Linked DNA regions of Homo sapiens. Changing the gene in region 1 together with any one later gene gives a genetic interaction. Each region holds a gene or a part of one and is shown on either strand. Other genes may lie near its edges. The genes, in order: DDX19A and ARID1A.

Evidence for each region.
Region 2: changes in DDX19A (region 1) and ARID1A together harm fitness more than expected from each alone (negative genetic interaction), as found in Homo sapiens cells (2 studies listed by BioGRID).

The regions. Positions count from the first base shown.
Region 1 is NC_000016.10:70,355,418-70,371,011, forward strand, and holds part of DDX19A (ATP-dependent RNA helicase DDX19A), read left to right. Parts: intron 1-67; coding exon 68-118; intron 119-694; coding exon 695-830; intron 831-1,428; exon of another isoform or gene 1,429-1,466; coding exon of another isoform or gene 1,467-1,489; intron 1,490-6,000; coding exon 6,001-6,093; exon of another isoform or gene 6,094-6,219; intron 6,220-9,125; coding exon 9,126-9,228; intron 9,229-9,599; coding exon 9,600-9,714; intron 9,715-10,515; exon of another isoform or gene 10,516-10,594; coding exon of another isoform or gene 10,595-10,667; coding exon 10,668-10,845; intron 10,846-11,206; coding exon 11,207-11,444; intron 11,445-14,805; coding exon 14,806-14,968; intron 14,969-15,594. UniProt on the Homo sapiens protein: ATP-dependent RNA helicase involved in mRNA export from the nucleus.
Region 2 is NC_000001.11:26,768,447-26,784,040, forward strand, and holds the end of ARID1A (AT-rich interactive domain-containing protein 1A), read left to right. Parts: intron 1-2,672; coding exon 2,673-2,880; intron 2,881-4,053; coding exon 4,054-4,186; intron 4,187-4,365; coding exon 4,366-4,541; intron 4,542-4,899; coding exon 4,900-5,050; intron 5,051-5,133; coding exon 5,134-5,271; intron 5,272-5,355; coding exon 5,356-5,452; intron 5,453-5,882; coding exon 5,883-6,774; intron 6,775-7,130; coding exon 7,131-7,261; intron 7,262-10,576; coding exon 10,577-12,310; 3' UTR 12,311-13,658; downstream 13,659-15,594. UniProt on the Homo sapiens protein: Involved in transcriptional activation and repression of select genes by chromatin remodeling (alteration of DNA-nucleosome topology).

The DNA.
Region 1 (15,594 bases):
ATTGTCCCACATTTTTGGTGGTTCTCATATTTGCCTTTCTAATTATGACAATTGTTTTCTTGTGTAGGTATTATCAAAACCAGTACCACTGCCGAGAAAACAGATGAAGAGGAGAAAGGTAACTACTTTTGGATGCCCTTGGCAAGAGACGGTATGACCCAGGGCTTGCCTTCCTGGAGCCAGGGGCACTCCAAGCTACAAGATCCAGGAGATGAGAGGAATCAGAGAAGGAATAGTCAGTGAGAGGAGGAGAACAAAACAAGTCCGAAAGCGGTAGCTCACACCTGTAATCCCAGCACTTTGGGAGGCCGAGGTGGGAGGATTCCTTTGGGCCAGGAGTTCAAGACCAGCCTGGGCAACATACTGAGACCCCATCTCTACAAAAGATTTCAAAATGAGCTGGGTGTGGTAGCACACACCTGTACTCCCAGCTACTTGGGAGGCTGAGGTGGGACGATTGCCAGAGCCCAGGAATTCTAGACTACAGTGAGCTCTGATTGCTCCACTGCACTCCAGCCTGGGTGACAGCAAGACCCCATCTCTAAAATAAATAAATAGAGACCTATCAGTGTGATGGTTTTTCTCCAGCCGTGCTTGACTGCCCAGGTGCTAGTGTGGAGAGGGAGAAAGAGTGGCTTCATAAGCCTGGGGTTTGCCAGATGAGTATGAAGATCTACTGGTTTCTTCCTGACAGAGGACAGAGCTGCCCAGTCCTTACTCAACAAGCTGATCAGAAGCAACCTTGTTGATAACACAAACCAAGTGGAAGTCCTGCAACGGGATCCAAACTCCCCTCTGTACTCGGTGAAGTCGTTTGAAGAGCTTCGGCTGTGAGTATTCGCTCCTTTCAACAGCTCTTCGTTGCCAGTCTCTCCCCACATAAAACTTAGCATCTGAGAGATTCTTGTGAGAATTTTACTTTTAAAAATTTAGTGTATTTTTTCCTTTTTTTTTTCGAGACAGAGTTTCGCTCCTGTTGCCCAGCCTGGAGTGCAATGGCGTGATCTCAGCTCACTGCAGCCTCTGCCTCCCGGGTTCAAGCGATTCTCCTGCCTCAGCCTCCCAAGTAGCTGGGATTACAGGCGCCCACCACCATGTCAAGCTAATTTTTTGTATTTTTAGTAGAGACGGGGTTTCACCATGTTGGCCAGGCTGGTCTTGAACTCCTGACCTCAGGTGATCTGCCTGCCTCGGCCTCTCAAGGTGCTGGGATTACAGGCGTGAGCCACCGTGCCTGGCTATTTTTTTTCTTTGAAAAGAAGTCACATGAATAAGTCACATGATTCAAAAGTCAAAAAGTATGAAAAAATTTGCAGTATTAATCTCCCACCCTTGTGTCCTTGGCTATCCTGTTCTCTTGGTAGGAATTTTTTAATGCTTCAAATTGATTTATCATAGCTAAAAGTCTTATTTCTCTTATACTCTTAGAACTTTCAATAAAATATTGGCTGACAGGTGATTTCTGGATGTCAGGAACATTTCTGATTAGGTAAGCCCTTAAGTGAGAACATGTGCTATTTGTTTTTTTTTTACAAAAAAAAAAAAAAAAGGCCAGGCACAGTGGCTCACACCTGTAATCCCAGCACTTTGGGAGGCCAAGGCAGGCAGATCACAAGGTCAGGAGTTCAAGACCAGCCTGACCAACATGGTGAAACCCTGTCTCCACTAAAAATACAAAACTCAAAACTTAGCCAGGTGTGATATCACAGGCCTGTAATCTCAGCTACTCAGGAGGCGGAGGCTGAGGCAGGAGATCACTTGAACCTGTGAGGCGGAGGTTGCAGTAAGCCAAGTTCGTGCCACTGCACTCCAGCCTGGGCAACAGAGCGAGACTCTCTCTCAAAAAAAAAAAAATATATATATATATATATGTATATTTAGACTATAGGGTTTACAGTCTTACAGTTTATCTGCTTTTTAAAAAATCTGTCAAATCTGTTTTTGGTTTGTTTTTTTTTTTTTTTTTTTTTTTTTTTTTTTTTTTTGAGACCAAGTCGTGCTCTGTTGCACAGGCTAGAGTGCAGTGGCGTGATCTCAGCTCACCACAACCTCCACCTCCCAGGTCCAAGCGATTCTCCTGCCTTAGCCTCCCGAGTTAGCTGGGACTACAGGCGTGTGCCACAACACCCAGCTAATTTTTGTATTTTTAGAAGAGACAGGGTTTCACTATGTTGGGCAGGCTGGTCTCGAATTCCTGATCTCATGATCTGCCCGCCTCGGCCTCCCAAAGTGCTGAGATTACAGGCATGACCCACTGTGCCCGGCCTTACGTTTTAGGTTTACTTCAGTAAATTAATAGAGGATTAAGTGTGGATCATTGTGTTATATACATGCCACTGTGCTGGATGTTACAAGGAACACAAGACCTACTTATTATTCTTGCTGCCTGCCAGGATCACAATCATAGAAAGTAGCTGATGAATAAGAATATGGTGGAATCAATGGATTCTTTGCCTTAGTTCAGCAAAATCTATAGTATGGCCACTATGGACAAATTGAAGCCACATTCCTTCCAGCTATTACCACTGAGAAAGAGACACTTAAAACAAGAAAGCTAACTAGTTGTTAAGTAATCTTGAAGAACAATTTTTTATTTTTATTTTTTATTTCTATTCATTTATTTATTTACTTTTGAGACTGTCTCACTCTGTTGCCCAGGCTGGAGCGCAGTGGCACAATCTTGGCTCACTGCAACCTCTACCTCCCGGGTTCAAGCGATTCTCGTTCCTCAGCCTCTCACGTAGCTGGGATTACAGGCCTGAGCCACCACACCTGGCTAATTTTGGTATTTTTAGTAGAGACAGCGTTTCATCATGTTGGCCAGGCTGGTCTCAAACTCCTGGCCTCAAGCGATCTGCCCGCCTCAACCTCCCAGGCTGCTGGGATTACAGGCATGAGCCACTGCACCCAGCCTTATTTTTTTATTTTTAAAAATAGAGATGTGGTGTCACTGTGTTGGCCAGGTTGCTCCTGAACTCCTGTGGTCAAAGAGTCCTCCTGCCTCAGCCTCCAAAATTGCTAGGATTACAGGTGTGAGCCACTGCACCTGGCCCAATAACTTTTTTTTTTTTTTTTTAATAGGATGAGGTTTTACCATGTTGCCCAGGCCAGACCAAAAATGTATTTTTAAACAGTTATACTTTAGGTCGGGCACGGTGGCTCACGCCTATAATCACAGCACTTTGGGAGGTCAAGGCAGGTGGATTGTCTGAGGTCAGGAGTTCGAGACCAGACTGGTCAAAATGATGAAACCCCATCTCTACTAAAAATACAAAAAAATTAGCCGGCTGTAATGGCACATGGCTTGTAGTCCCGGCTACTCAGGAGGCTGAGGTAGGAGAATTGCTTGAACCCAGGAGGCGGAGGTTGCAGTGAGCCGAGATCATGCCGTTCGTTGCACTCCAGCCTGGGAGATAAAAGCGAAACTCCTTCTCAAACGGAAATTATGCTTTTCTATGTGTTTTCTCTGTCAAGGACTTTATTCACCAAATCTGTCATCTCCACTTTTATTTTTAAGCTGTATCAGGACAGCTAGACATGTGGTATGATTTCCTTAGAGTGACAGTTTGCTCCTCCAAGTATCAACTGCCTTTTTAAATTTCTTCCCTTTAGAAGACGTGAGCTCTCAGTTTAACCACTGATGAATTGTCCTCTGTAAAAGACAGGTTCTCTCTGATTTAGTTGTTGGTAGGAAAAGGAAACAAAGAATGAAACCAAGATCACCTAATGTACTTGGTCTGCTTTGTACCTAAAATATTTGAGTTAATCTGCAAAATCAAAGAAAACTGAGTCAGTGGAAGCTGTTGGATCATTTGAGTCCCAATTAAGGTAGTGACTTTGTTTCCTTGGCAACCAAGTCAGAAGCTGCCGAGTGTCACAGCATTTTCTCCCAAATGGAAGATATGAAAGATTATGTTTTTAAATTTCTTTGTGTCTGAGAACCAACATACGCCAGAGAATTTGCCTTTTAGAGAGCCTGCTAAACTCCAAGGAAGGCTTAGAGAACAGTTGGGTTGCCTTTTCTTTAGAAACAATCTGGTATGATTTTTCTTAAACATCTTGTCAATTTAGAGGTAGCAGAGAGCTGATTGTAAATGCAATGTAAGAGCAACTTAAATTGATAATTCTTGTGTAGCTGTTTACATAAGAAGTTGGTGTCCAGGTGCGGTGGCTCACGCCTGTAATCCCAGCAGTTTGGGAGGCTAAGGTGAGTGGATCTCTTGAGCTCAGAAGTTCATGACCAGCCTGGGCAACATGGTGAAACCTTATCTCTACAAAAAATAAAAAAAAATTAGCCGGGTGTGGTGGCATGTGCCTGCAGCCCCAGCTACTCAAGGGTGGGAGGATCTCTTGAGGCCTGGGAGGTGTCGGTTGCAGTGAGCCCAGTTCACACAACTGCACTCCAGCCTGGGCGACAGAGTGAGAACGTCTCTCAGAAAGAAGTAGTTAGTGTTTGTCTGTTTATTTTGATTAGACCTAAGTGAATCTGAGCATTTGTAAAGTTTAGTAGGTTAATCGAACCACCTTTATTTACTGTATATCAGCTACTAGAAACTGGCTTCATCAATTTTCTTTTTTTATGGCCGGGCGCTACAGCTCACGCCTGTAATCCTAGCACTTTGGGAGGCCGAGGCAGGTGGATCACCTGAGATTAGGAGTTCAAGACCAGCCTGGCCAACATGGCGAAACCCTGTTTCTACTAAAAATACAAAAATTAGCCAGGTGTGGCAGTATGCGCCTGTAATCCTAGCTCCTCAGAAGGCTGAGGTAGGAGACTCGCTTGAACCCAGGAGGCAGAGGTTGCAGTGAGCCAAGATCACGCTATTGCACTCTAGCTTGAGCAACAGAGCAAGACTCCATCTCAAAAAAAAAAATTTTTTTTTTCTTTTTTCTTTCTTTCTTTCTTTTTTTTTTTTTTTTTAAGAGATGACCTGGCCTTGTTGCCCAGCCCAGAGTGCAGCGGGGCAATCATGGCTCGCTATAGTCTCTAACTCTTAGCCTCAGGCAATCCTCCTGCCTCAATCTCCCAAGTAGCTAGGACTACAGGTGCATGCCACCATGCCCAGCTCATTTTTCTTTTTTGTTTTGTTTTGTTTTGTTTTGTTTTAGAGACAGGGTCTCACTGTGTTGCCCAGGCCGGTCTTGAACGCCTGGACTCCTCAAGCAGTCGTCCCACCTAGGCCTCCCAAAGTGCTGGGATTACAGGCGTGAGCTACCACGCCCAGCCCATCAATTTCCTTACCTATTGATTGTCTGGAGTATTTGCATAGCTGGCTTTGGAAGGAACATGGAACAAAAGGACTTCTAAATCTTAGCAGTATAGTAAATAGTGTTTATTTTCATTTATTATTTACTTTAGAGTCCCACTCTGTCACCCTGGTTGGAGTGCAGTGGCTCAGTCACAGATCACTGCAGCCTTGACCTCCTGAGCTCAAGTGAGCCTCCCACCTCAGCCTCTTGAGTAACTGGGACTACAGGTGTGTCCAGCTATTTTTTGTATTTTTTTGTAGAGACGAGGTATCACCATGTTGCCCAGGCTGTTCTCGAACTTCTGGCCTCAAGCAGTTGGCCTGCCTTGACCTCCCAAAGTGCTGAGATTACAGGCATGAGTCACTGTACCTGACCTGTTTTTAGATATATCTTTTATAATTTATGTAATGCTATGAATTAATAACCACCACCCTTGCTGTGTCCAGGGAACACTTGTCTTCCAAGGCCAGCCAGATTTGCGGGTCTGCTGAAAGCATTAATTTCTCTAAGAAAAGAAACCATTCTGTATTTTATGAATTATAGAATAGTTGCAGATTAAGATTCCTTAGGGAAGGGCGGTAGCTTGGTTTGATTTGGTTTGGTTTTTGACAGTGTTTTTTTAAGGCATAGGAAAATACGTCTGACAGAGGTAGGAGGCATCATTCCTTTCTATAGAAAAAGATAAGATTCTAGGCCTCTAAAACAATTCTAACTTCTAGGCATCCATCCTCTGTCTTCCTGGCTTCCTAGGAAACCACAGCTTCTCCAGGGAGTCTATGCCATGGGCTTCAATCGACCCTCCAAGATACAAGAGAACGCATTACCCATGATGCTTGCTGAACCGTGAGTATGCAGATGAAGCGCATCTCACCCAGTGTGATTAGATCAATCTTCCCCAAACTGCGTTTTTGTGCCTGAGAACAGAAGGAGCTGTTTGGGGCCACGTGTTTCCTCAGGAATACAGCTTAGGCAAGTGCAGAGAGAATCGGATGGAGTTAGCTACAGTTTCTGCCTTTCCCACTTAACAATAGAAACTTATAGAGAAAGGTAGTGCTTTATTCCATGCTATCTTAAAAACTGGGCTTAAGGCCGGGCATGGTGGCTCACTCCTGTAATCCTAGCACTTTGGGAGGCCGAGGCGGGCGGATCACCTGAGGTCAGGAGATTGAGTCCAGCCTGGCCAACATGGCAAAACCCTGTCTCTACTAAAAATACAAAATTAGCTGGGCACGGTGGCCCAAACCTGTAATCCTAGCACTTTGGGAGGCCAAGGTGGGCGGATTGCCTGAGCTCAGTAATTCGAGACCAGCCTGGGCAACATGGTGAAACCCCGTCTTACTAAAATCAAAAAAAAAAAAATATCCAGGCCTGTTGGCATGTGCCTGTAGTCCCAGCTACTCAGGAGGCTAAGGCAGGAGAATTGCTTGAACCCGGGAGGCAGAGGTTGCAGTGAGCCGAGATGGTGCCACTGTACTCTAGCCTGGTGACAGCAAGACCCTGTCTCAAAAAAAAAAAAAAACTAAACTAAAAATACAACAATTAGCCTGGCATGGTGGCACGTACCTGTGGTCATGTAGCTGAGGCAGGAGAATTGCTTGAACCCCAGAGGCAGAGGTTGCAGTGAGCCGAGACATGCCACTGCACTCTAGCCTGGGAAACATAGACTCTGTCTCAAAAAAAAAAAAAAAAAAAAAACTGGGTTTAAAAAATATTATTTTGATGTGAATGGTGTTGCAATAAATTCAAAAACAAACAAAATATTATTTGGAAATTTTTGAGACCTACACAAAGGTGTAAAGAACAATACCAAGAACACCTCTGTAGCCCTATCCTGCCAAGAAAGGAAGCAGGTCCAGTTGATAGTTGAAGCCCCTGAATTCCCCTCCTTCCACATCCTTCTCCCACCCTGACAAGACTAAGTTCCTTTTGAGACAGGGTCTCATTCTGTTTCCCCATCTAGAGTGCAGTGGTGCAATTACAGCCCACTGCAGCCTCGACCTCCTGGGCTTAATTAATCCTCTCACCTCAGCCTCCGGAGTAGCTGGGACTATAGGCATGTGCCACCATGCCCAGCTGACTTTAAAAAAACTTTTTTGTAGTTTGAGAAGCTGAGGCAGGTGGATCACTTGAGGTCAGGAGTTTGAGACCAGCCTGGCCAACATGGTGAAACCCCGTCTCTACAAAAAATACAAAAAAATTAGCCGGGCTTGGTGGCGCACACCTGTAATCCCAGCTGCTAGGGAGGCTGAGGTGGGAGGATCGCTTGAACCCAGGAAACAGAGGTTGCAATGAGCCAAGATTACACCATTGCACTCCAGCCTGGGCGACAGAGTAAGACTCTGTCTCAAAAAAAAAAAAAAAATTTGTAGAGACAGGGTATCACTATGTTGCCAGGGCTGGTCTCAAACTCCTGGCCTCAAGTGATTCTCCAGCCTCAGCCTCCCAAAGTGTTGGGATTATAGGCATGTGTTACTGCACCTGGCATATTTATCATTTTTTCTTTTTTGAGATGGAGTCTCCTCTGTCGCCCAGGCTGGAGTGCAGTGGTGCAATCTTGGCTCATTTCAACCTCTGCCTTCCAGGTTCAAGTGATTCTCCTGCCTCAGCCTCCTGAGTAGCTAGGATTACAGGCGCACACCACCACACCTGGCTAATTTTTGTATTTTTTTGTCTGTTCGTTTGTTTTTGGGATGAAGTCTCGCTCTGTTGCCCAGGCTGGAGTGCAATGGCGCGGTCTCAGCTCACCGCAACCTTCGCCTCCCGGGTTCAAGTGATTCTCCTGGCTCAGCTTCCCGAGTAGCTGGGATTACAGGTGCCTGCCACCATGCCTGGCTAATTTTTGTATTTTTAGTAGAGATGGGGTTTTACCACGTTGGCCAGGCTGGTCTCGAACTGCTGACCTCGTGATCTGCCTGGCTCAGCCTCCCAAAGTGCTGGGATTACAGGCGTGAGCCACCGCACCCAGCCTAATTTTTGTATTTTTAATGGAGGTGGGGTTTCACCATGTTGGCCAGGCTGGTGTCGAACTCCTGACCTCAAGTGATCTGCCCACCTTAGTTTATTTATTTATTTATTTATTTATTTTTTTGTGAGATGGAGTCTCGCTCTGTCGCCCAGGCTGGAATGCAGTGGCGCAACGTCTGCTCACTGCAAGCTCCGCCTCCCAGGTTCATGCCATTCTCCTGCCTCAACCTTCCCAGTAGCTGAGACTACAGGTACCCGCCACCACGCCCGGCTAATTTTTTATATTTTTAGTAGAGACGGGGTTTCATTGTGTTAGCCAGGGTGGTCTCGATCTCCTGATCTTGTGATCCGCCTGCCTCGGCCTCCCAAAGTGCTGGGATGACAGGCGTAAGCCATATTTATCTTTTTTAATGACAACCATGCCACCTATTCCCATGATGCTGGGTCCCATAAAATGGAATGTAAAAGTTCCCTCTAAAACATCCACCTGACTTAGCATCTTGTCCATAAAACTGGGGAAAGGCACACACAGAAGGAACCAAATTCTGGGAATGCATCATGGCTCAGCCAAAAATATTGCTGGGGTCTTGTCTGGGCACAGATCTTACTCTGCACACTTGATTTCCCTGTGCCCCTTGGGGTGCAAAACTGGGGTCCTTTAGCTGTGCTAGAGGCTAGAATGAGAATTTCTTGGTGTGAGCCCATTTAAAATAATCATTTATTTTACAATTTAAGCAGCTTTTTAACAGCGTATAAAAAAATGTATGAAAGTAATTTGTGCTCAATGGAGAAAACCTGGGTAATATAGAGAAGCACGAAGGGGGAAATATGCCTTTCATTCAGAAAGAACATTTTGACATGTTACTGAGTTTCACCAATTTAAGTTTCATTTCTGTTCTTCCTTGATCCAGCCCACAGAATCTGATTGCCCAGTCTCAGTCTGGCACTGGTAAAACAGCTGCCTTTGTCTTAGCCATGCTCAGCCGAGTGGAGCCATCAGACAGATACCCCCAGGTGAGGGCTTGCGGGGCTGGGTGTCCTAGGTTGCCTGCCCTGGGGAGCGCAGTGCCATCTGGTGAGGAGTAACGAGAGGTCTGAAGCTTCTGACACCTTAGGCTGTGGCTCAGGCAGAGCAAGTTCCTACACCAGGCCCTGACCTGGGAGAATGTGCTTGAAAGCAGCAGCCTTAGACCATGGCTTGCAAAGGCCTCTGCCAAGCCAGGGCTACCTGCTGCAGGCTTCAGTCTATGGCTGAAAGGTGGGCCTGGATGGGAGGACATGCTTCCCTGTGCTATTCAAGTGCTAATAACATCAGCATACTGGGTGCCTTCAGGTCTGTTACCAAATGGCTCTCCTAAACTCATCCTTTATGATTTTTCTGTCAGTGTCTGTGCCTCTCCCCAACATATGAGCTGGCGCTTCAAACAGGAAAAGTGATTGAGCAGATGGGCAAATTTTACCCAGAACTGAAGCTTGCCTATGCCGTTCGAGGCAATAAATGTGAGTACGGCAGGCGACAACTGAACAGTGAGCAGGGTAGGGGGTTGGGCGTTTGAATTTTGAAGATGCGATGACCGTATTCAACTTTCTAATTCAGTCTGACCCTGGAGCCTAACTGTGTTGCTCTATTTGAATCTATTTGAATACCTGCTAATTTGTTAACAGTCTTTTTCAGTCTTAAAATAAGATTTTCGGTTGATTAAAAAAAAAAATCCACGCATGGCTCACAGAGTTCTTAATATCTAGAGTTCTTCGCTCAGAAGGTAGAGTTTTGAATTTAGCGTCCAGAGTTCTGGGACCTGCTACCAAAGAGGGATTAACAGGACTGAGGATGGAAGGTTGGGGTCAGCTCCCTTTCTTTAAAAGTAAGCAAAACCAGGTACAGTGGCTCACACCTGCAATCCCAGCCCTTTGGGAGGCCAGGGTGGGAGGACTGCTTGAGCACATGGTTCGAGACCAGCCTGGGCAACATAGTAAGACAAAAAATAAAAAAAAAAAAATAGCCAAGCGTGGAAGTGCCAGCTTGTAGTCCCAGCTACTTGGGAGGCTGAGGCAGGAGGATCGCTTGAACCTGTGTGGTCAAAGCTGCAGTGAGCCATGACTGTGTCACCGCACTCTAGTCTGGGCAACAGAGTGAGACCCTGTCTCAAAATAAATAAATAAATAAACATAAAAAGAGTTGGATGATGTTGGATTATAGGAGGAAGAAGAAGGGAACTGATGCTTATTGAAGGATTGCTGTGTGGGATTTGATCCTGACCACAGTGCACTGAGATAGGTGTCATTCTGCCCACTTCACAGCAGAAGAGACCAAGACTGAGGGGAACACTCATGTGTGTTTTGAAATCTGGAAATAACTTGTTCTCCTAGTCCTAGAAGGATGGGCAGGGCTTTGATTTCCAGAGCTGGCTTTGCCTTTGAAATACCTATGAAAATCACCTGGGTCTCCACAGTGGAAAGAGGCCAGAAGATCAGTGAGCAGATTGTCATTGGCACCCCTGGGACCGTGCTGGACTGGTGCTCCAAGCTCAAGTTCATTGATCCCAAGAAAATCAAGGTGTTTGTTCTGGATGAGGCTGATGTCATGATAGCCACTCAGGGCCACCAAGATCAGAGCATCCGCATCCAGAGGTAGGGATCTCGAGGGTGGGGGACTCCTCAGACTCCCCATCTGCAGTGTCTTCTCCCTTCACTTCAGACGCCTCCTCTGGCTTCTGCCTGGGTCTTGGCTCTCGTACTCTCAGCAGCATTTGTTTGACGGGCCATTTCCATGTCAGCGCTGATCACAGTCCCTCCCAACCTGGGTTGAGAAAGGAGACCTAGGGACTCTTCCCCAACCCTTGTCCCCATCCCAGGCCTGCTGCTCCTCCTCCCCAAGATGCTCCTCCCCCATCAGCCTTCCTGGGCATCTAGACCCTCCCAGCTGGGGAGGCTGTGCTTCCGTTGCTTCCCAGGGCCACCTGGGGCCATCTACCCGGGCCTTCCCTTGCAGGATGCTGCCCAGGAACTGCCAGATGCTGCTTTTCTCCGCCACCTTTGAAGACTCTGTGTGGAAGTTTGCCCAGAAAGTGGTCCCAGACCCAAATGTTATCAAACTGAAGCGTGAGGAAGAGACCCTGGATACCATCAAGCAGTACTATGTCCTGTGCAGCAGCAGAGACGAGAAGTTCCAGGCCTTGTGTAACCTCTACGGGGCCATCACCATTGCTCAAGCCATGATCTTCTGCCATGTGAGTAGCAGCGGCAGTGGCAGGCCTGGCCCCTCCCTCTCAGCCAGCTCCCCACAGGGCTCAGGAGGACTGGATGCCCCTGAGCGCCATGGAAAGAAGGGAAGTGCTTTTTGAAGATGTAAGAGACAGGCTCTCCTTTAGTGGGGGTAATGGTAGTATCCCAAGGGATACATAGCCTAAAGATAGAGCCCCTGAACTTTATGTCTTATTTGTGGATGATGTATTGTTGCACAACCCAAGAGAATCAACTCATATTTGTAAGAAAAATAAAAAATTCAACAAGATGGCCGGGTACGGTGGCTCATGCCTGTAATCCCAGCATTTTGGGAGGCCGAGATGGGTGGATCACGAGGTCAGGAGATCGAGACCATCCTGACTAACACGGTGAAACCCCATCTCTACTAAAAGTACAAAAAATTAGCGCGGCGTGGTGGCGGGCGCTTGTAATCCCAGCTACTCGGGAGGCTGAGGCAGGAGAATGGTGTGAACCCGGGAGGCAGAGCTTGCAGTGAGCCGAGATCACACCACGGCACTCCAGCCTGGCAACAGAGAGAGACTCCGTCTCAAAAAAAAAAAAAGTTCAACAAGATAGTCATAACATTCACACACATAGTTTTCCAGTCTCAAACAACAAATACTTAGAAAATGGAAGCATAGATCTCATTGATAATAGAAAAAATAAATATTTAAGATCTCTGAAGAAAATGTCAAAATGATTTTAGAATAAAAGAGACACCGGAGCACGGTGGCTCATGCCTGTAATCCCAGCACTTTGGCAGGCCGAGACAGGCGGATCACCTGAGGTCGGGAGTTGGAGACCAGCCTGACCAACATGGAGAAACCTCGTCTCTACTAAAAATACAAAATTAACTGGGTGTGGTGGTGCATGCCTGTAATCCCAGCTACTCGGGAGGCTGAGGCAACAGAATCACTTGAAGCTGGGAGGCGGAGATTGCAGTGAGCTGAGATCGTGCCCCTGCACTCCAGCCTGGGTGAGAGAGCGAGACTCCGTCTCAAAAAAAAAAAAAAAGAGGCCAGGCTTAGTGGCTCACGCCTGTAATCCCAACACCTTTGGAGGCCAAGGTAGAAGGATTGCTTCAGCCCAGGAGTTTGAGACCAGCCTGGGCAACGTCGGGAGACCCCATTTCTAAAACACTTAAAAAAAATTAGCTGGATGTGGTGGCACACACCTGTAGTCTCAGCTACTCGGAAGACTGAGGTGGGAGGATCCCTTGAGCCCAGGAGTTAGAGGCTGCAGTCAGCTGTGATCACGCCACTGCACTTAGCATGGGTCATAAAGCAACACTCTGTCTCAAAACAAGGAAACATACAATGCAATGATACAGTGATAACAGTAATATATCTCTCAAATATAATCCACGTTCTCCTATCTCCACTTGTGCCAAAAGTATTCTTTTTTTTTTTGAGACCGAGTCTATCTAGCTCTGTCACCCAGGCTGGAGTGCAATGGTGTGATCTAGGCTCACTGCAACCTCCGCCTCCTGGGTTCAAGCAATTCTCCTGCCCCAGCCTCCAGAGTAGCTGGGATTACCAGCGCCCGCCATCATGCCCAGCTAATTTTTGTATTTTTGGTACAGGGGGTTTCACCATGTTGCCCAGGCTTGTCTTGAACTGCTGACCACAGGTGATCCAACTGCCATGGCCTCCCAAAGTACTGGGATTACAGGCATGAGCCACTGCGCCTGACGCCAAAAAATACTCTTTTTTTTTTTTTTTAGACGGTCTCACTATCTTGCCCAGGCTGGACTCAAACTCCTGGGCTCAAGCAATTCTCCTACCTCAACCTCCCAAGTAGGTGGGACTCCAGGCACATGGCACTGTGCCCAGCTCATCTTTATTGCTTTTTGTTTTGTTAAATCCAAGAGCCAGTCAAGTTTTGCTTGTTGCATTTAGTTGTCATGTCTCTTAAGACTCCTAAATCTAGAAGAATTTCCTCACCTTTATTTTATTGCCTCTCATTACAATGACATCTTGAAGCATCCAGGGTAGTCTTTTCTTTTTGAGATGTAGTTTTGCTTTTGTTGCCCAGGCTGGAGTGCAGTGGTGCAATCTCGGTTCACCACAACCTCTGCCTCCCGGGTTCTAGCAATTCTCCTGCCTCAGCCTTCCCGGGTAGCTGGGATTACAGGCATGTGCCACCACACCTGGCTAATTTTGTATTTTTAGTAGAGACAGGGTTTCTCCATATTAGTCAGGCTAGTCTCAAACTTCTGACCTCAGGTGATCCGCCCGCCTCGGCCTCCCAAAGTGCTGGGATTACAGGCGTGAACCACCGTGCCCGGCCAATCTGGTTTTTTTTTTTTTTTTTTTTTTTTTGAAACGGAATCTCGCCTCTTGCCCAGGCTGGAGTGCAATGGCATGATCTTGGCTCACTGCAGCCTCTGCCTCCCGGGTTCAAGCGATTCTCCTCCCTCGGCTTCCTGAGTAGCTGAGATTACATGCACATGCCACCACGCCCAGCTAATTTTTGTATTTTTAGCAGAGACGGGGTTTCACCATGTTGGTCAGGCTTGTGTTGAACTCCTGACCTCGCGATCGGCCCACCTCGGCCTCCCGAAGTGCTGGGATTACAGGCATGAGCCACCGCGCCTGGCCCCCAGGGTAGTCTTTTACTCCTAGGCTCAAGTGATCCTTCACTTGATCTCCCAAATTGCTGTGGTTATAGGCGTGAGCCACCGTATCTTGCCCCAGGTTAAATATTTTTGTGGTATAAATTTTCTTTTTTTTTTCTTTTCTTCTTTTTTTTTTTTTTTGGAGACAAGGTCTTGCTCCGTCACCCAGGCTGGAGTGCAATGGTGCAATCTTGGCTCACCAGCCTCGACCTCTCAGGTTTAAGCGATTCTCCTGCCTCAGCTCCCTCAAGTAGCTGGGACTTACAGGCCTACACCACCATGCCTAGCTAAATTTTTTGTAGAGACAGGTTTGGCCATGTTCCCCAGGCTGGTCTCGAACTCCTGAGTTCAAGCGATCCACGTGCCTCGTCCTCCCAAAGTGCTAGGAGTACAGGTGTGAGCCACCATGCCCAGCCAGGTACAAATATTTTCGTAAGATTACAAGCCAGGTGACATTGTTACTTCCTGTTGCACTATATCGGGTTTACAATTTTAAGAAATTTAGCTTTTAGCTGCTAAGTTTCAGGTACAGTCTTCCAGATCAAAAATATCTTCAGCTGAGCGTGGTGCCTCACACCTGTACTCCCAGCCCTTTGGGAAGCCAAGGCAGGATAATGACTTGAGCCCAGGACTTTTTAGATCACCCTGAGTGACAGCAAGACTGTGTCTCAAAAAGAAAAAATATATACTCAAATACTTTCATTTCTCAATTGTTTTTTTTCTTCCAGACTCGCAAAACAGCTAGTTGGCTGGCAGCAGAGCTCTCAAAAGAAGGCCACCAGGTGGCTCTGCTGAGTGGGGAGATGATGGTGGAGCAGAGGGCTGCGGTGATTGAGCGCTTCCGAGAGGGCAAAGAGAAGGTTTTGGTGACCACCAACGTGTGTGCCCGCGGTGAGCAGAGGACGTGTCCCACCTGGTCTGCCAGGCTCGGGGTCCCAGGCCCAATTAGAGCCAGAAATCCTTGTATACAGGGAAGTCGGATGGTCTCAGGGAGATGGGTGGGGTTGGTGACACTATTCCTTTCTAGGAGAGACTGTTTGGATTTCCCTGAGGTGGTAAGAACTCACACATGCCAGGTGCGGTGGCTCATGCCTGCAATCCCAAGGCAGGAAAATTGCTTGAACCCTGGAGACAGAGGTTGCAGTGAGCCGAGAATGTGCTATAGCACTCCATCCTGGGTGACAGAGTGAGACTCTGTCTCCAAAAAAAAAAAGGAAGAGGGCAGGCCCAGTGGCTCACGCCTGTAATCCCAGCACTTTGGGAGGCCGAGGTGGGCGAATCACCTGAGGTCAGGAATTCGAGACCAGCCTGACCAATATGGTGAAACCCCATCTCTACTAAAAATACAAAAATTAGCCGGGCGTGGTGGCATGCGCCTGTAATCCCAGCTACTCAGGAGGCTGAGACAGGAGAATCGCTTGAACCCGGGAGGTGGAGGTTACGGTGAGTGAGATCGCGCCATTGCACTCCAGCCTGGGCAACAAGAGCGAAACTCCGTCTCAAAAATAAAAAAAGAA
Region 2 (15,594 bases), on another chromosome or scaffold:
CACTAGACTGTCAAAAGTTAGAAATAACTTTGGCTTTCAGCAAGGTTTCTGCCACATAAATCGGCCTGCAAGATGGTACAGAGGCAGCCAGAGTAGAAGTAGATCTTCCCATTCCTGGAAGCTTCCCAGTAGAGATAGGATTTCAGGAACTGCTTAGTAGAAATAGTTTATAATAAAGGAAGAAGTAGTAGGAAATTATGTGTTTAGTTATTCTGTATGGGAAACTTAAATGAAAACCTGAATTGGACACCACCCAGAGCTTGTGCCTACTCTGATACCTTACAATTTTGTAGACTCAGCCCAGGAAGCAAACAGGTGAGGCAGCACAGACAGACAGCAGACTGTGCCTTGCAGACTTCCCTCCTGTGTATGTTCTGTAGTCACCAGACCAGAAGCCTGCTGTTGGATCAGTTTGTGGCTGAGCTCGGGGAGGTGTGGCAGGGAGGGATTTATTCCAAACCTTCTAAATCAGAAGAGGAAAACAGCTGTCACCAGCAGAAAAGAAAGTGGTTGGAATGAAGCCAGCCAACAGTCAGTTATGAATTCCTTCTCCCTTCAGGCTTTATTCCCCTCCCCCACAAAGGAAAACAAAACAAAATAAGACACGTGCATACTGCCACATAACTGGCATGAGAAGCAAAGCCACGGAAGGCTTTTGAGGTGACTCCATGCATATTCCTGCCATTCTCCCTGATACTCAGATCTCATAGTCAAGCCTTCCCTGTCTATAGGGAAAGGGAGCATTGGGTTAGGTTTCGCTCACTTCTGATTGGGTGGGCTTCAGGGTTCACTGAACCTAGGATGAGGTACAGAGAGAATTCTAATGCCTGAGCCTGTCTTCCAGATTGGAAAAGGATGCAAACCTTTAAAATGCCGTGATTGTAACTGAACTTTTATAAAGGCAGTGATAATTCAGGGGCAAAAGAGTGCTATTTATAAGTTAGTTTGTGAAGGCTCCAAGAAAGCAAAGCTGAATCTTGAGCTTATCTAAAGGATTAGTAGGGTTTAGGTGGAAGAGTGGCCAATCCAGTAGACTGGCCTAGATGCCACGGAGATGGGAGAGAGTCTAGATATTTCCCACCAAGGCCATCTCCAACCATGAAGACTTAGCTCAGGTGTTACCCACTCTAAGAAGTATTCCTAGTCACCTCTGCCCCTCTAGGTTGTCCCCCTCTGTGCCTCTTTAAACTCTTCTTTCTAGTATCATAGGTATCATATCAGCAGACATTACAACCTATTGAACTTCCTTTGTGTATAGGGACTTGAAAACCCTTGTTCCCAGGCCTTGGGGGAACAGGCTTACCATATGGTAGATGAATAAGCATAAGAATACATGAAGAAGGAGACCTGTCCAGCTAGAGCAGAAAGACTAATTGTAGGGAGCATCTGGGGAATGGGCTTGGTCAGTGTGCCCTGAAGCTGAGGGAAGGAGGCAGAACTGTAGGTTGGCTGCTCGGGAGGTACAAAAGTCATAATAAGGCCCCGGGCCAGGCGCAGTGGCTCACACCTGTAATCCCAGCACTTTGGGAGGCCGAGACGGGCGGATCATCTGAGGTCAGGAGTTTGAGACCAGCCTGGCCAACATGGCCAAACCTTGTCTCTACTAAAAATATAAAAATCAGTGGGGTGTGGTGACAGGCACCTGTGGTCCCACTACTTGGGAGGCTAAGGCAGGAGAATCACTTGAACACGGGAGGCGGAGGTTGCAGTGAGCCGAAATGGCGTCACTACACTCGAGCCTGGGTGACAGAGTGAGACTCTGTCTCTAAATAAATAAGACCCTGAACACCCGGACCATCAGGACAGTGACTGGTAAGGGAAAGGGACCTGTGGTTATTTGTCAATGAGATATGTAGGGGAGCAGTGGCACAAGAATGTCAAATTTGCAGGGAGCCACCACCCCAAGAAAAAAATATGAGTAAATCCCAAGTTTGACAAAGCAAGTCAAGCAGGGTGGTCACTGATATTATCATGAGTCTCCATTTTATAAAATGTTAGTTTTTATTAGTGCATCTAAAATAGGATTTAGGGCCAGGCGCGGTGGCTCACGCCTGTAATCCCAACACTTTGGGAGGCTGAGGCGGGTAGATGACTTGACGCCAGGAGTTTGAGACCAGCCTGATCAACATGGTGAAACCCCGTCTCTACTAAAAATACAAAAATTAGCCAGGCGTGGTGGTGCACACCTGTAATCCCAGCTACTCGGGAGGCTGAGATAAGAGAATCGCTTGAGCCCGGGAGGCAGAGGTTACAGCGAGCCAAGATCACGCCACTGCACTCCAGCCTAGGCGACAGAGCGAGATTTATTTTTTCTGTCTCAAAAATAAATAAATAAAATAGGATTTAGATATCCAGATGATTTGTACACCACTTTTTAGCAGCGTACTAAAAAACCGGACTCTGAATTCTGTTCCAGTAGTAATGTGAAATTTGCCCTGTTGTGAATAAGCACAGTCTGATAGTTGCAGTGGAACATCCTGAGGGTAAAATGAAGCCAGCTGCAGATTTAACACTTCTTGTGGACTATCCACCAAGCAAGATTAACTTTTTCAATTACCTAAGAACTGTGGTTCTACAAAGATGAATACCTTACAGCCTGATGGGGCTTGGGGCTTATGGGCAGGAAAACCAGGCGGGAGATATACCTCGACTCCTTTGGTTTGGTTATACAGGTCAACAAGAACAAAAAATGGCGGGAACTTGCAACCAACCTCAATGTGGGCACATCAAGCAGTGCTGCCAGCTCCTTGAAAAAGCAGTATATCCAGTGTCTCTATGCCTTTGAATGCAAGATTGAACGGGGAGAAGACCCTCCCCCAGACATCTTTGCAGCTGCTGATTCCAAGAAGTCCCAGCCCAAGATCCAGCCTCCCTCTCCTGGTAAGGATGGGGTCAGCGGCCCCACCAAGGCTGAGAGGGCCTGTTGCCCTGGCCTCTTATTCAGGATATGAATAAGAGGCTTATCCAACAGGATATGCCAAGGATCTGTGCTCTGCCTTGCCCTACCACAGGGCTTAACAGGTTGGCTGACTAGAGAGTGGGCAGTGGAAACTCCCTTGGGAGGTACTCTACGGCAGCTCTTAAGTTTTAATTTTTGTTGTGCAGCTGACAACTTGCCAAATGTTTGTAAACTGGTGAATGGGAGGGGCACAAGAGGAGTCGGTGGAACTTATAAATGGCAGCAAGGCAGGGCCATCTGGGAGCTTTGGCCTATTGATGTCAGCACCTTAGAATGCAGCTCAGACTAGAGCCCTGAATTCCCCAGGGAGCTGAGATGGTAATGAATGGGAAGGAGGGAGTGGGGAAGGGTTATGAATGGAACTCCCTGATGGGAGTGGCTCTGCTCACCCTCCTTTCTGAGAGGAGGCTGAGGCCTAGGGTGAGCCTAGAGAGGGAAGAAGGCCAGGGTGCCTGGAAGGTGGGTGTAAACACATGTGCCCTGGTGTTGACCTCTGAGGGTGTAATGAGTGCCTGAGATGACTCATCAGCTGGGGAGGCCTCAGCAGTGGGATATCTACTGCTGGGAATGGTAACTATTGGAAACATTAATTACTAGTAGTTTTGTACTCATCAGCTTAGAAGAACATTTGAAGTTGAGGAGTGACACCATGCTGGATGCTTTAGAACAGGAGCTCCTAGACTCCTAAAATGCATCCCAGATTTGGGACCCCCTTCCCACCCAGGACTTGGGAGGCTCTGACTGGAGCTCATGCACCAGCATTACAGGGTTTAGTAGGTTAGACAAGGTCCTTTGGCGGAGTGAAGAGAAATAGCCAGGGAAGCTGGCAATGACTCAGGGAATCACCAGCATGGTGATGTCATGGCCACATCACTCCTCTTTTCTACACGTAAAACAAAAACAAAGAGCTACAAAACCCTCAGATTCCCGTCTTTATGACCTGGCCTTGTAGATCCTCTGCTAAGAAGGGTGATCAGGCTTTAAAGGCCTTAGGAAGAACTTTCCCAAAGAGATTCTGGGTCGTTCGTGTGTTTGTGTGAGAGTTAAACACTGTCATGCCAAGCAAACTACTCAACTTGTATCTCTGTCCACAGCGGGATCAGGATCTATGCAGGGGCCCCAGACTCCCCAGTCAACCAGCAGTTCCATGGCAGAAGGAGGAGACTTAAAGCCACCAACTCCAGCATCCACACCACACAGTCAGATCCCCCCATTGCCAGGCATGAGGTAAGGCCAAGAGCAGGGGCAGATGGTTGGGAGGATGGCTGAAGATAAGTGCATGGGAACTCCTTGCAGCCCAAGGTGGTCCTTGCCTCTGCCTTCCCAGCCAGTGACTCCTGCGTGTCCTTTGTTATATTGGAGGAATTGGTTTATTTGTGGTTTACTTGGTTTTCCTCACTCTGGAGCAGGAGCAATTCAGTTGGGATCCAGGATGCCTTTAATGATGGAAGTGACTCCACATTCCAGAAGCGGAATTCCATGACTCCAAACCCTGGGTATCAGCCCAGTATGAATACCTCTGACATGATGGGGCGCATGTCCTATGAGCCAAATAAGGATCCTTATGGCAGCATGAGGAAAGGTGACTGATCTGATTGCTATTTGAACTTGTGCTCGTAAAGACAGGGCCAGTGAAATGGGGGGAAATCTTGAGAATGGCTCAGGGTTCTTGTGGAGCCATCCTCTGAGATAATGCATTTCCTGCCCTAACTACCCCTCTTCATCCTTACCTCCTTTCTTGTCTTCTCCTTGGCTTCACCTTGTCATCCCTTAATAAGTACATGCTTTTCGCTGGTTGGGGCCTCTTTAGATCTCTGTTTTGAACTTGTCTGGAAAACAATGAGATCAAACCTGAACTCTGAAGAGGGCCTGGGTCAAAGGGTAGATTACCAGGCTTGTCAACTTACCAGTTTGTTCACCGCTTGCCTTTCTACGCTCAGCTCCAGGGAGTGATCCCTTCATGTCCTCAGGGCAGGGCCCCAACGGCGGGATGGGTGACCCCTACAGTCGTGCTGCCGGCCCTGGGCTAGGAAATGTGGCGATGGGACCACGACAGCACTATCCCTATGGAGGTCCTTATGACAGAGTGAGGTAAGCATGACCCCAGCTCCTGTCCACTCCCCCAGCACCCTGAAGCTATAGTGGGCTCAATCTGCCTCTCCAATTTTGTTTAGGACGGAGCCTGGAATAGGGCCTGAGGGAAACATGAGCACTGGGGCCCCACAGCCGAATCTCATGCCTTCCAACCCAGACTCGGGGATGTATTCTCCTAGCCGCTACCCCCCGCAGCAGCAGCAGCAGCAGCAGCAACGGTGAGTAAAGCCTGGTCTCGGTGCTGCTATGGATCAGGCTTCGCCACTGCCCACCCTAATCCTGTGTTTCTTTGCCTCCTATAGACATGATTCCTATGGCAATCAGTTCTCCACCCAAGGCACCCCTTCTGGCAGCCCCTTCCCCAGCCAGCAGACTACAATGTATCAACAGCAACAGCAGGTGAGGAGGGTAGCTGGGAATGGACTGGCATGCAGGTTCGCCTTGAAAACTAGTTAGTAAACTAATCTAACGTGTTGAAGTCTAAGAAGCTCACTTTAGATATTTTGGCATTCTTCTCTCACCTGACTGGCCAGTCCTGCCTGAAGAGCCACGTCCTCAATCTCTTCTCTATTTGGAGTTGGAAGGGGCTAGAAATAGACCTTATTTTGATTTTTAGGTTTTGTATATTTTTCTACTTAAGCAAGGGAAGGGAAGAAAGAGTGGTGGTTGCTTTTGGAAACAACTTCAAAAGACAATTTGTTAAGGTGATTCCCATGTTTTCTTGGAGTCTGTGTCCACCAAGCATCTGGTTGTAGCCATCTTGGCATCTGTGGGCTTTATGTCCCTGAGTGCAGAGTATTAACTTCCCCTCTGCTTGTCTCTGCCTTAGAATTACAAGCGGCCAATGGATGGCACATATGGCCCTCCTGCCAAGCGGCACGAAGGGGAGATGTACAGCGTGCCATACAGCACTGGGCAGGGGCAGCCTCAGCAGCAGCAGTTGCCCCCAGCCCAGCCCCAGCCTGCCAGCCAGCAACAAGCTGCCCAGCCTTCCCCTCAGCAAGATGTATACAACCAGTATGGCAATGCCTATCCTGCCACTGCCACAGCTGCTACTGAGCGCCGACCAGCAGGCGGCCCCCAGAACCAATTTCCATTCCAGTTTGGCCGAGACCGTGTCTCTGCACCCCCTGGCACCAATGCCCAGCAAAACATGCCACCACAAATGATGGGCGGCCCCATACAGGCATCAGCTGAGGTTGCTCAGCAAGGCACCATGTGGCAGGGGCGTAATGACATGACCTATAATTATGCCAACAGGCAGAGCACGGGCTCTGCCCCCCAGGGCCCCGCCTATCATGGCGTGAACCGAACAGATGAAATGCTGCACACAGATCAGAGGGCCAACCACGAAGGCTCGTGGCCTTCCCATGGCACACGCCAGCCCCCATATGGTCCCTCTGCCCCTGTGCCCCCCATGACAAGGCCCCCTCCATCTAACTACCAGCCCCCACCAAGCATGCAGAATCACATTCCTCAGGTATCCAGCCCTGCTCCCCTGCCCCGGCCAATGGAGAACCGCACCTCTCCTAGCAAGTCTCCATTCCTGCACTCTGGGATGAAAATGCAGAAGGCAGGTCCCCCAGTACCTGCCTCGCACATAGCACCTGCCCCTGTGCAGCCCCCCATGATTCGGCGGGATATCACCTTCCCACCTGGCTCTGTTGAAGCCACACAGCCTGTGTTGAAGCAGAGGAGGCGGCTCACAATGAAAGACATTGGTAAGGAGATCTTCCTCATTCGGTTGCCTAATCTGCCCCTTTCCATCTTGTCCATTGTTCCCTCCACCTTACTATTCTGGATGAGGTTGAATCTGGTCCAGTGTTGACTAAAATAGAACCAAAGAACTTTGGAAAAGGAAGAAATAAGCTAACTAAAGGTTCTCCTTCATTGCCATGCAATGAAGTCCTAGACAGACAGCTTAGAAGCCATGAGGGGCTGGTGTGTTTCATCTCCCAGACAGAAACTGCCTTCCACCTTGTGTTATCTTCAGAGTAGCTTCACTGATGGGGCAGCCCTAGGGGTGCCTCCAGCCAACCTGGGCTTGGTGGATAGACGACATGGAGGTTTATTTCAGGAACCCCGGAGGCATGGCGGGTAATGATGTCCCTCAAGTCTGGTCTCCTGGCAGAGAGCACATGGGCATTAGATACCATCAACATCCTGCTGTATGATGACAACAGCATCATGACCTTCAACCTCAGTCAGGTGAGTATCAGTGCCTGGGGAAGATTGAGAGGGTTTGGGATCTTCTTAGTGTAGACAATGGGAATGTCTCATCTTTAGCCACCTTGGTCTTTCTCTTTCTCTCTTGTAGATATCTTCCATGCCAGTACTTTGCTTCCTTTGCCTCTGGGCACGGGCCCAGGATTTTGACAGCAATAATAATTTGTTTACATGATAACCTTAACACAGGATTGACTTCAAAAGGAATTTGGGAGACACTTTGTGGTATTAGTAAGAATTCAGATTCAATCGATGCCAGTGGGGACACCACATTTTCTAGAAGAATCTGTGTTTTTTTGTTTTTTTAATAGAGACGAGGTCTCACTATGTTGCCGAGGTTCATGAACTCCTGAGTTCAAGTGATCCTCCCAAAGTGCTAGGATTACAGGCATGAGCCACCAGGCCCAGCCTGAATCTGTGGTCAAATTTTTATCAGTGAGCAGAGTATGTTTTTTCCATTTTTCCCTTTCTTCTCTGAACAGTAGGGGCCTTTGTTGATCCCAGTTTTCCTTAGATGTAGAGTGGATGGGGGATTTGATTGTTTAACAATATTCTTTTTTTTTTTTTTTTGACTGAGTCTCTCTGTCGCCCAGGCTGGAGTGCAGTGGCGCTATCACAGCTCACTGCAACTTCCGCCTCCTGGGTACATGCCATTCTCCTGCCTCAGCCTCCCAAGTAGCTGGGACTACAGGCGCCCGCCACCACGCTCGGCTAATTTTTTGTATTTTTAGTAGAGACGGGGTTTCACCGTGTTAGCCAGGATGGTCTCGATCTCCTGACCTCGTGATCCAGCCGCCTCAGCCTCCCAAAGTGCTGGGATTACAGGCGTGAGCAACCGCGCCCGGCCCTACAATATTCTTACAAAGCTGATTCTTCAGACCCACCCTCCATAGGATGTGCACACTAGTGGAGGTGCTGGAAAGAGTTTGTGCTGCATCATCCTACTCTTTTTCTTTTGATCATCTTTAGTACCTACCAACCTGTATATCAAGGAGCTGACTTATTAATAGTTACCATTTATCGTGCTCTTATTTTGTGCCAGGTCCTTAATATTTTGTTTCATGTCATCCTAGCAACAGCCCTCAGAGGTAGGAGGTATGGCCATTTAGGGATGAGTAAATAGGCTCAGTCTTATCCTTGTTGAGGTTCACATAGCTGTCAGTAGAATCTATCTGATTCCTAAGCCTGATTTTATTTCCATTGCATAATATTGCCTACCATGAGAAAGGAAAAATTTTGATAGAGCAATTTTCATATGCCAGGTATTTGACATCTCCCATTTACACCTCAGAACAACCCTGTAAAGTTTAGGAATTTTTATCATTTTATACAGCTACTTCCTGGAAAAGCCAGAATTTTTTTTTTAAGAGACTCTGGCACCTAGGCTGGAGTGTAGTAGTGCCCTCATGGCTCACTGCAGCCTCAAACTCCTGGGCTCAAGCGATCCTCTTGCCTCAGTCTCCTGAGTAGCTGGGACTACAGGCAAATGCCACCATGTCCAGCTATTTATTTATTTTGAGACAGGGTCTCCATTACTCAAGCTAGAGTGCAGTGGTGCAATCACAGCTCACTGCAGTCTCAACTTCCGAGGCTCAGGTGATCCTCCCACCTCAGCTTCCCAAGTGGCTGGGACTACAGGTGCGTGCAAACATGCTCATGCTCAGCTAATTTTTTTTTTTTTTTTTTTTGAGAGATGAGGCTTCACCATGTTGCCCAGGCTGATTTCAAACTCCTGGGCTCAAGTGATTGACCTACCTCAGCCTCTCAAAGTACTAGGATTACAGGTGTGAGCCACCGTTCCAGGCCCCGGATAACTTCTTTATTTTTTTATAGAGGCAGGGTCTCACTGTGTTGCCCAGGCTGGTCTCAAACTCCTAGGCTCAAGTGATTCTCCCACTTCAACCTTCCAAAGTGTTGGGATTACTGGCTGGGTGCAGTGGCTCACGCCTGTAATCCCAGCACTTCAGGAGGCCGAGGCAGGAGGATCATTTGAGGTCAGGAGTTTGAGGCCAGCTGGCCAACATGGTGAAACTCCATCTCTACTAAAACTATAAAAATTAGGCTGGGCGCAGTGGCTCACGCCAGTAATCCTAGCACTTTGGGAGGCCAAGGTGGGTGGATCACTTGAGGTTAGGAGTTCAAGACCATCCTGGCCAATATGGTGAAACTCCATCTCCACCAAAAATATAAAAATTAGCCGGGCCTGGTGGCACACACCTCTAATCCCAGCTACTTGGGAGGCAGAGGCAGAAGAATCACTTTGAACCCAGGAGGCAGAGGTTGCAGTGAGCTGAGATCGTGCCACTGCACTCCAGCCTGGGCAACAGAGCGGGACTCTGTCTCAAAAAAAAAAAAAAAAAAATACACACACACACACTCTCACACACTAGCCCGATGTGGTGGCAGGCGCCTGTAATCCCAGCTACTTGGGAGGCTAAGGCAGGAGAAAAATCGCTTGAACCCAGGAGGCGGAGGCTGCAGCCAACTGAGATCACACCACTGTACTCCAGCCTGGATGACAGAGTGAGACTTCATCTCAAAAAAAAAAAAAAGTGTTGGGATTACAGGTGTGAGCCACTGCTTCCAGCCCCTAGATCTAATTCGAAAGCCCTTATTTTTTTTTCCATCTGCTCTACTGTTCAGCCAAAGATTGTGACTGGAGAGGAGTGTTTTCTTCTAGAGGTAAATAAATGGCCTATATATTATCCAAGGTGGAATTTGGGTCTCTGTAGCACCAGCTTGGACCAGTGTTTGGAGAGCTGAAGCCTCGTCCCACTCCTTATGCTGCAAGATCCATGGAGTTCCAGCCCCCTGGACTTGTGGGGAGCTTGGAGAAGAGAGCCATGAACATCTGCCCACATGGCATTCTCTTCTCTTAGCTTAAGTCACCATGCCTAAGCTTGGGTTCCACTTGGCAGTGAGATGGAGAGAGTGTCCTAAAAGAGATAATGGCAATGACCACCAGGTTGAAAACTGGCCTGGTGAAGAAAAGCAGAAGATTAATTGGGAAAAGAGAAGGCTAAGAGATGATTGGCCCTGGTGGGTGAGGTGCAAAGCTGTTGGCTAGTGTTCCTGGAGATAGGCTTACGTGAAGGTAGGTTGGGCAGAAGAAAGAACTTTGTGTTGGGCATAGAAGAGATTAAGATGAACAATTTGCTCTGTGGAGAACCTTTGGGAAAGGAGCAACTCTGCCTCTCCCAACTGATACAGAAGACTTGGGGAGGTCTCTCAAGTCAATAATTCTGTTCTTAGGCCACTTTTCTCCCTTAATTTATTTCCTGTTCTTTCTCTTTTTAGCTCCCAGGGTTGCTAGAGCTCCTTGTAGAATATTTCCGACGATGCCTGATTGAGATCTTTGGCATTTTAAAGGAGTATGAGGTGGGTGACCCAGGACAGAGAACGCTACTGGATCCTGGGAGGTTCAGCAAGGTGTCTAGTCCAGCTCCCATGGAGGGTGGGGAAGAAGAAGAAGAACTTCTAGGTCCTAAACTAGAAGAGGAAGAAGAAGAGGAAGTAGTTGAAAATGATGAGGAGATAGCCTTTTCAGGCAAGGACAAGCCAGCTTCAGAGAATAGTGAGGAGAAGCTGATCAGTAAGTTTGACAAGCTTCCAGTAAAGATCGTACAGAAGAATGATCCATTTGTGGTGGACTGCTCAGATAAGCTTGGGCGTGTGCAGGAGTTTGACAGTGGCCTGCTGCACTGGCGGATTGGTGGGGGGGACACCACTGAGCATATCCAGACCCACTTCGAGAGCAAGACAGAGCTGCTGCCTTCCCGGCCTCACGCACCCTGCCCACCAGCCCCTCGGAAGCATGTGACAACAGCAGAGGGTACACCAGGGACAACAGACCAGGAGGGGCCCCCACCTGATGGACCTCCAGAAAAACGGATCACAGCCACTATGGATGACATGTTGTCTACTCGGTCTAGCACCTTGACCGAGGATGGAGCTAAGAGTTCAGAGGCCATCAAGGAGAGCAGCAAGTTTCCATTTGGCATTAGCCCAGCACAGAGCCACCGGAACATCAAGATCCTAGAGGACGAACCCCACAGTAAGGATGAGACCCCACTGTGTACCCTTCTGGACTGGCAGGATTCTCTTGCCAAGCGCTGCGTCTGTGTGTCCAATACCATTCGAAGCCTGTCATTTGTGCCAGGCAATGACTTTGAGATGTCCAAACACCCAGGGCTGCTGCTCATCCTGGGCAAGCTGATCCTGCTGCACCACAAGCACCCAGAACGGAAGCAGGCACCACTAACTTATGAAAAGGAGGAGGAACAGGACCAAGGGGTGAGCTGCAACAAAGTGGAGTGGTGGTGGGACTGCTTGGAGATGCTCCGGGAAAACACCTTGGTTACACTCGCCAACATCTCGGGGCAGTTGGACCTATCTCCATACCCCGAGAGCATTTGCCTGCCTGTCCTGGACGGACTCCTACACTGGGCAGTTTGCCCTTCAGCTGAAGCCCAGGACCCCTTTTCCACCCTGGGCCCCAATGCCGTCCTTTCCCCGCAGAGACTGGTCTTGGAAACCCTCAGCAAACTCAGCATCCAGGACAACAATGTGGACCTGATTCTGGCCACACCCCCCTTCAGCCGCCTGGAGAAGTTGTATAGCACTATGGTGCGCTTCCTCAGTGACCGAAAGAACCCGGTGTGCCGGGAGATGGCTGTGGTACTGCTGGCCAACCTGGCTCAGGGGGACAGCCTGGCAGCTCGTGCCATTGCAGTGCAGAAGGGCAGTATCGGCAACCTCCTGGGCTTCCTAGAGGACAGCCTTGCCGCCACACAGTTCCAGCAGAGCCAGGCCAGCCTCCTCCACATGCAGAACCCACCCTTTGAGCCAACTAGTGTGGACATGATGCGGCGGGCTGCCCGCGCGCTGCTTGCCTTGGCCAAGGTGGACGAGAACCACTCAGAGTTTACTCTGTACGAATCACGGCTGTTGGACATCTCGGTATCACCGTTGATGAACTCATTGGTTTCACAAGTCATTTGTGATGTACTGTTTTTGATTGGCCAGTCATGACAGCCGTGGGACACCTCCCCCCCCCGTGTGTGTGTGCGTGTGTGGAGAACTTAGAAACTGACTGTTGCCCTTTATTTATGCAAAACCACCTCAGAATCCAGTTTACCCTGTGCTGTCCAGCTTCTCCCTTGGGAAAAAGTCTCTCCTGTTTCTCTCTCCTCCTTCCACCTCCCCTCCCTCCATCACCTCACGCCTTTCTGTTCCTTGTCCTCACCTTACTCCCCTCAGGACCCTACCCCACCCTCTTTGAAAAGACAAAGCTCTGCCTACATAGAAGACTTTTTTTATTTTAACCAAAGTTACTGTTGTTTACAGTGAGTTTGGGGAAAAAAAATAAAATAAAAATGGCTTTCCCAGTCCTTGCATCAACGGGATGCCACATTTCATAACTGTTTTTAATGGTAAAAAAAAAAAAAAAAAATACAAAAAAAAATTCTGAAGGACAAAAAAGGTGACTGCTGAACTGTGTGTGGTTTATTGTTGTACATTCACAATCTTGCAGGAGCCAAGAAGTTCGCAGTTGTGAACAGACCCTGTTCACTGGAGAGGCCTGTGCAGTAGAGTGTAGACCCTTTCATGTACTGTACTGTACACCTGATACTGTAAACATACTGTAATAATAATGTCTCACATGGAAACAGAAAACGCTGGGTCAGCAGCAAGCTGTAGTTTTTAAAAATGTTTTTAGTTAAACGTTGAGGAGAAAAAAAAAAAAGGCTTTTCCCCCAAAGTATCATGTGTGAACCTACAACACCCTGACCTCTTTCTCTCCTCCTTGATTGTATGAATAACCCTGAGATCACCTCTTAGAACTGGTTTTAACCTTTAGCTGCAGCGGCTACGCTGCCACGTGTGTATATATATGACGTTGTACATTGCACATACCCTTGGATCCCCACAGTTTGGTCCTCCTCCCAGCTACCCCTTTATAGTATGACGAGTTAACAAGTTGGTGACCTGCACAAAGCGAGACACAGCTATTTAATCTCTTGCCAGATATCGCCCCTCTTGGTGCGATGCTGTACAGGTCTCTGTAAAAAGTCCTTGCTGTCTCAGCAGCCAATCAACTTATAGTTTATTTTTTTCTGGGTTTTTGTTTTGTTTTGTTTTCTTTCTAATCGAGGTGTGAAAAAGTTCTAGGTTCAGTTGAAGTTCTGATGAAGAAACACAATTGAGATTTTTTCAGTGATAAAATCTGCATATTTGTATTTCAACAATGTAGCTAAAACTTGATGTAAATTCCTCCTTTTTTTCCTTTTTTGGCTTAATGAATATCATTTATTCAGTATGAAATCTTTATACTATATGTTCCACGTGTTAAGAATAAATGTACATTAAATCTTGGTAAGACTTTTGTGAAGCTTTTTATTGTTTTCAAACTAAAACTTGACCTTTTGTCGGGGGGCAGGGGGATAGTCCTGTTTTTGCAAACCTCCCTTAGTGTGAGATCTCCCCTAAATAGTGGCATTCCTGGACCCTGTCATTTATTTACTATATTCCAAAATAAGACAACCATTTATCTGGAGGCAATCTCCAACTTAATCACTTATAATATCTCTGGACTGGCTCTTTTCCCTGACTCCAGACTAGAGCATTCAGCCACCTTTCTTGTCATCCCTGCTTGGAAGTTTACTTTGAACATGCCAAAGCTAAAATGTCCTGTCTTCCCCCACTAGAAACCTGCTTCTCCCATAGTTTTGGTTTTTTTGTTTGTGTTTTCCTTTTAGTAAATGGCAACTCCATTCTATCACTTGGCTAAAAAAATCCTTGACTTCTTTCACTTCCACATCCAATCTGTTAGCACTCTTCATAAAATAATCCTCAATCCCACACTACTGTAGTTCAAGATACTGTCATATCTTGGATTCTTGAAATACCTCCAAATTGGCCTCCCTGCTTCTGCTTTGCCTGGTTGAACCTATTCTCAACAGAGCAACCAAAAGGACCCCTATAAAAGGTAAGTCAGATCAAACGCCTTCAGTGCTTCTGACTCAGTAAGTAAAAATCCAGACTCTTAAAAAGTGGCCTACAAGGCCCTGAGTTATCTAGCTTACCTCTACCTTTCCTGCACCATCTGTCTTGCCCGTTGCTCACCCCACTGTATAGAGATGTTTCCACCTTGGAGTCTTTGTACTTTATACTCTCTCACCAAATAACTGCATGGCTCAAGTCCTCGACTGCTTCAAGTCTTTGTCCAAATATATAAGTAAGGCTTTTCATGGTCACCTTACTTAGAATAGCAATCTCTGCCCCCCACTATGTTTCCCTTGTCTGCCTTATTTTTCCTGTGGCACTTGTTACTGTCTGGCCTGTTGTGTGTTGTACTTACCTGTCACCTTCCACTGAAATGTAAACTGAGGGTGGTGGGAGGGGTGTTTTGTTCACTGCTGCATCCTGGTGCTAACACATAGACTGGCACATAGCATCTACTTAAGTAGTAGTTGAATGATACTGTCGATGTTGGCTAGATGCAGTTGCTTTTATGAGGCTAATGTCACAATATATAGTTTCTCTGTTCACCCCCTTCCTTAGGGAAACAATAGAGAAGCCTCAAGTTCCTCAGGAGAAATCAGAAGCAGAAAGAGAAAAAATGCTATCATTGTGGACACTTAGAAGTGAAATTTGAAACAAGAAACAACAGTTTTCTATTGTGTACCTACTTATATTCTGGACATAGCACATCACAATCCTACAACAATCCTGTGCCTGTGAAGTCAGTATGTGGCTCCCATTTTACAGTTGAAGAAAGAGGCTAAGAAAAGTGAAAGGCTTTTTAAGTTCATACACCAAGCAAGTTCCACCTGACTCCAAGGATCATGCTTTTCTTAATATACCACACTACCTCCTTTCTGGATGAGAACCCAACCCAGGAGTAAGGGATCTAGCTGTGGAGCTCAGCAAGCAAGATTTGTTTTTATTGTCTTTAGCACGAGGTAAAATTGTCCTCAGAATTTCAATCAAGTGTTCATCAGACTAAGTGTGGCTGTTAATATTTGGGTCAGGAACAGGATTTGAATAATTAGTATTTCTCAATTGAGAGAGGAAAACCTTTGTCAACCAAGATGCGTTCCTAGGATTCTTCTAGAAAAAGGTAAATGGGAAGCTTTTCATATCTACAATTTTGGTAAGCAATATTGCTAATGGCTATTTTTGTTCTAGGCCTCGAGCTCCGTTTGCTAGTCTAGAAATTGCATATCTGGGCTGTGTGTGGAGCATTACCTAGGAGTTCGGTTTCCTGGGTTCCTTTCATCTGCTCTCCTGCAATGCAGGGAGAGCCTAGCCTG